Regions from separate parts of the Homo sapiens genome. Here region 2 is linked to region 1. Evidence: fine-mapped expression QTL. Tissue or cell type: unexposed skin. Region 1 holds a variant in brackets; the other region holds the start of a gene. All regions are shown on one strand. Distances are from middle to middle.

The links. PIP is the estimated chance that this variant, and not a neighbour inherited with it, causes the effect.
Region 2: it holds the start of WDR87, and the variant in region 1 is fine-mapped to the expression of WDR87 in unexposed skin (GTEx, PIP above 0.99). The same link has a PIP of 0.9 or more in sun-exposed skin.

Annotation. Positions count from the first base shown.
Region 1 is chr19:37,833,717-37,836,477 of GRCh38, reverse strand. It overlaps the pseudogene WDR87BP. Among named protein-coding and RNA genes, the nearest start is that of ZNF573, 56 kb to the right of the region's middle. The variant G/C (reference allele first, on the strand shown) is at 1,582.
Region 2 is chr19:37,904,878-37,907,638 of GRCh38, reverse strand. WDR87 (WD repeat domain 87) reads left to right here and starts at 1,045. Exons shown (of 6, transcript NM_001291088.2): 1 at 1,045-1,140. It overlaps SIPA1L3 (signal induced proliferation associated 1 like 3), which reads right to left and starts at 431. Exons shown (of 22, transcript NM_015073.3): 1 at 281-431. RefSeq lists a silencer at 80-319.

The sequences.
Region 1 (2,761 bases):
GTAGTACTCTATGTTGCTGAAGTTTCTGGGTCCATGATCGCCCTAAGCCAAATCAGAATTTCATTCGGATGGAAGGAGGGGGAAGAGGAAGGAGAAGGATTTGATGTAGAGTAGGTAGCAGTAATATCAGGCAGATACATTGCGTTAAGATATTCTTAGTTTTTTTCCATAGCAAAGCGTTGATCTCATTTAATGAGTGAATGAATTGTTTGTACATAAAGGCTGGAAAGGAGAAAAGGAATGATGATTAACTAATGGAATAAGAGGTATGTAAATGAGCTTTCTGATTAAGAGAGATGAGGGGTTGGGAGCTCAGACACCAGGGTCCTTTCACTCAACTCTGCTACTGCTACTGAATCAGCAATGACAATGGTGCTGTAAGCTCTTGAGATCTGAAAATAAGAAATACAGGTAGGGCTGGGCATGGTGGCTCACGCCTGTAATCCCAGGACTTTGGGAGGCCAAGACAGGAGGATCACTTGAGCCCAGGAGTTCAAGAGTAGCCTGGGCAGCATAGCGAGACCCCATCTCTACAAAAATAAAAAAAATTATCCAAGTGTGGTGGTGCATGACTATAGTCCCAGCTACTCAAGAGGCTAAGGTGGAAAGATTGCTTGAGCCCAGCATTTTGATGTTACAGTGAGCTATGATCACACCATGGCACTCTAGTCACGTCAACAGCAACAGAGCAAGACTCTGTCTCTAAAGAAAAAAAAGAGAGAGAGAAAGAAAAAAGAAATACAGAAAGAAGAGAGATTCTAAGTTGTAGATAGATATTGGCCTCAGTATAGTCTCAAATCCTTTGTGGATGCAGGAAGCAGGTATGATGGACATTATAAGTAAAGTTGTTTTAATACTTCAGTTGATTTAGTATTATACCTTCCAACTTAGTTGGTCAGAGCACAAATTCTGATGCAGAGAAACTTGGAGAGTTAGATCCATGGGGCATTGTTCAGGAGGTGGGTATAGTTCAAGTAGCTACTGAGAAGGGTGACCCCAGAAGTAAACTTCATGAACTCAGTTTTGGCTGATCAGCATGAGGACTTCATGTACATACATTACAGACATCTGCTACATCACTGGAAGGTGGCATGTATTGTATATGTTCTACTGTGTAACCTATTACAAGGTATGTAACTCCCTTGATAGGTACATATATATACACACACCCCACATGGCCAGAAGAGCTGACACACAGCTAACTCCATGTTGTAAATAGCACACATTCCCCTTGGGTACACATAAGAATAGTGACAGAATGCAGAGCACAGTGGCTCACGCCTGTAATCCCAGCACTCTGGGAGGCTGAGGTGGGCAGATCACTTGAGGTCAGGAGTTCGAGACCAGCCTGACAAACATGGCAAAACCCTGTCTCTACTAAAAATTCAAAAATTATCCGGGCATGGTGGCGGGCGCCTGTAATCCCAGCTACTCGGGAGGCTGAGGCAGGAGAATCACTTGAACCCAGGAGGCAGAAGTTGCAGTAAGCCAAGATCGCGCCACCTTAGTCCAACCTGGGCGACAGAGCGAGACTCCATCTAAATAAATAAATAAAGAAAGAATAGTGACAGAGGTGCATGC[G/C]ACAAGGTCTGCCACACATGGTGGTCATCCTATTACATACTGTGAAGTATGAGTTTCCCAAAGGCAGTGTATCGTGTGTGCAATTCTAATAAGAGTGGTCCTTTTGGTGTAGGCTGGAACTTAAAAAAGTTGTTCCAACTGTGACAGGTATACATATTTGCCATGGTTGGGTTCCTCTGTCATACAGAATTGTATTCCTTTCTTTTTTTTTTTTTTTTTTTTTTTTTTTTTTTTGAGATGGAGTCTCGCTCTCGCCCAGGCTGGAGTGCAGTGGTGCGATCTCAGCTCACTGCAGGCTCTGCCTCCTGGGGTTCACGCCATTCTCCTGCCTCAGCCTCCCGAGTAGCTGGGACTACAGGCGCCCACCACCACACCCAGCTAATTTTTTGTATTTTTAGTAGAGACGGGGTTTCACCGTGTTAGCCAGGATGGTCTCGTTCTCCTGACCTTGTGATCCTCCCGCCTCGGCCTCCCAAAGTGCTGGGATTACAGGGGTGAGCCACCGTGTATTCCTTTCTTTGTAAGCATTTACTTGTTTTGTATACTCAGTTGTTAGTTATTTGTTTAACGTCTGTTTCCCCTCTGACTCATCTTCTTAAGAGCCAGAGCCATGTCTGTTTTGCTCAGCACTGTACCCTCAGAATCTTTCATAGAACCTGTCAGCCTTTCTCAACTGTGGCTCTTCATCTGAATCATGGAACACAGAACATGATTTGAGGGGCTACTTTCTCATTTCTCTCAATGCCTCATAACTAGTAGCATTCTAGATGACTAGGAAAGAAATCAATTCATTATGTAGATTGGATACTTTAGGACATGAGGGCTTACTTTTTTTTATGGAAACTTGGTTGAGAAAGTGTAGAAGAGACCAATTGATACAGATGTATTCTGTTGCAAACTGAGGGTGAGGGAGGGATGACCCCTCCAGTGCTGCTTTCCAGTAGTAGGGTAAACGTTGGTTAGCTCAAAAACAACAAATGACCACTCATCTCTCAGTAAATATTTATTTATTTATTAAACTTATTGAGACAGGGTCTCGCTGTGTCACCCATGCTGGCGTGCAGTGCTACAGTCATGGCTCACTGTGGCCTGACCTCCTGGGCTCAAGCGATCCTCCTGTCTTACTTAGCCTTCCGAGTAGCTGGGACTACAGTCATGCACCACCATGCCCAGCTAATTT
Region 2 (2,761 bases), 71 kb before region 1:
GTTTTCCCAGATCGCGGCTCCCGAGTGGCACAGCCGGGACGCGAATCCACCGCTCCCCGCCTCCAAGCTCTTCACCACAGCGCCGGGGTGCACGCCTGGAAAGTTGAGCCATGCGGGCACGAGTCCGGCTGGGTCCGGAGGGCGCGAGTCCCGGCGCCGCCGCCCCCCACGGCCAGTACCCACACCCGGCCGTCCGCCCGCGCTGACCCTCGGGGTCCGGGCAGCCACCGATTCCCCGCCACCCTTGCGCGAGGCCGATCCTGCACCCGGAGCCACGTACCTGGACGCCCCGGCTGCCCGCCTCGCGGGCCCCACGATCGCGGCGTCCAGCTCCGCGCCGCTCGCTGGAGACGCCGCCAGCTCCGGTGGCCCGAGTGACTTCCAGGCTGCCCACTTCCAAGCCGCTTCGCGCGAGTCCTCCTGGGAACTGTAGTTTCGCCCTAGCCGGCCGCGAACTCAAAAAGAGAATGGCGCGCGGGGGCTGCCGGGAGCCGTAGGCGCACCGCCGCGCTGCCTCCTAGGAACGGTAGTCCGCTGGTCGCCTTCGTGCAGCTCCAGTCTGTAGAGCACTTCCGCAGCCCCGAGGGGCGTGAGGGAGGGAGGTGTGTCTCCTGCAGACTACAGCTCGAGAGCCGCGCTCTTCGCCCCGCCGGGGCGGTTTCTCCTTTCTCCTGGCCCCGTCTACCTCCTCCCTTCATTCGGCGGAACCTCTCCCTCACTCTCTGCCAGGCTCGAGTCACTTACCCCTAGGACGCTAGCCCGGGGGAAACGGGGGAAGCGGAGCAGTGCGCTAGACCCCCAGCGGAGGGGGCGGTGGAGGAGGGCGTAGATGCACGCCCGCGCACGCGCGGTCGTCGGCAGACCCCGGCCTAAATTGCCGCGGGACCCCGCGGAGAGGATTTTTTTTTTTTTTCTTTCGAGAGCGCGCGCGCGTTCTCGCGCCGGGCGCGCGCCCATGCGCACGCGCGTTCAGACCCCTGGCCTCGGGAAGTCCGCCGGCTGCGGGGTTGGGGGCCAACCGTTCTGTGGGCGGAGTCCTCTCGCAACATCCGCCAGGTAGCTTCTTAGTTGCTGCCCCTAGCTCTAGGAGCTCCTGAGTGCACACGCCGTACCCGTCCCTTGTCGGGAATCCTGTCGCAGGTAACAGGCGCAGCCAATGCTTTGAGATAGAGACGCCCTGCCTTCCCTGCCACGTGCAGGAGGCCCGAGGGTGAGGGGCCCCAGGTGTAGTCGCCTGTCCCCGGCGTAGGCGGCTCCAGAGCTCTGCCTTCGACGGGAGCCACAAGACCCAGGGGCTGCCTAGGGGCCTTGTTATCTTGCATTCTTTTGTTGATCGCACATTCCTGAGGGTAACTAGTGTTTGTAGAGTACCTACACCTTGGGAAATTTTGTCCAAATTTAATCCACCTGGTGACATAACCAAGCAGCGGAATACCCCGCAACACACACTCCTTTTTTAAGGTATATTGCCACTCCTCCATAAGAGTTACCGAGGGAATTGACTGGAATTGCAAGGTCCTCTGGTGGAGAAGCCGGAGTCAATACCCTTTCCGCCTCAGCCTGCCTTCTAGGAAGATGTTCACTAACACTTGAAGCTGGGAAGCATATGTTTCTTCCTGGGAGAGCACATTTTTCCACTCATTCAACAAAAATGGATTAACCACCTATTCCATGTCAGGTTGGGTGATTATGGAGACACAAGAGAAATCCAGACAGACTGGACTCCTACCTTCAGGGAGTTTTCAGTCCAGTAGGGATATCAGGCCACCACCAGACTACAACAATGTAGAGCAATACTAGCTAAGAGAAATATACCCTGCACTTTGAGCCACCGAGGCAGGAGGATCACTTAAGGCCAGGAGTTGGAGACTGGCCGGGTAACATAGCAAGACCCTATCTCTACTAAAACTAAAAAACTAGCTAGGCGTGGTGGCATGTGGCCATAGTCCCAGCTATTTAAGAGGCTGAGTATCGCTTAAGCCCAGGAGTTTGAGACTGCAGTGAACCATGATTGCACCACTGCCCTCCAGCTTGGGCGACAAAGCAGAACCCTGTCTCTTTAAAAAAAAAAAAAATTATATATGTGTGTGTTTTTATGTGTAATGCAAGCCACATATGCAATTTTAATTTTGACATAAACAGGTAAAATTCATTTTATTTATCATTATTATTTACTTTTTTTTTTCTTGCTATGTTGCCCAGGCTGGTATTGAACTCCTGGCCTCAAGACATGTTCCTACCTCAGCCTCGCAAAGTGCTGGGATTATAGGCGTGAGCCATCTCACCCAGCTATGAAATTAATTTTAATATTTTATTTAACCCAAATATATCCAAAATATTATTCCAAGTTAGGTTAATGGAAAAATGTTTTCATTGCTTCAGTTCTACTTTTTTTTTTTTTTTTTTTGGAGACGGAGTCCCACTCTGTCGCCAGGCTGGAGTGCAGTGGCGCCACCTCGGCTCCCTGCAACCTCTGACTCCCTGGTTCAAGTGACTCTCCTGCCTCAGCCTCCCAAGTAGCTGGGATTACAGGCAGGCGCCATCACACCCAGCTAATTTTTGTATTTTTAGTAGAGACTGGGTTTCACCATGTTAGCCAGGATGGTCTCGATCTCCTGACGTGATCTGCCAGCCTCGGCCTCCCAAAATGCTGGGATTACAGGCGTGAGCCACCATGCCTGGCCTCAGTTCTACAATTTAAGTTAATTAAAATCAAATAAAATTAAAATGTTATGAGGCACTAACAAAGATACTCATTTGC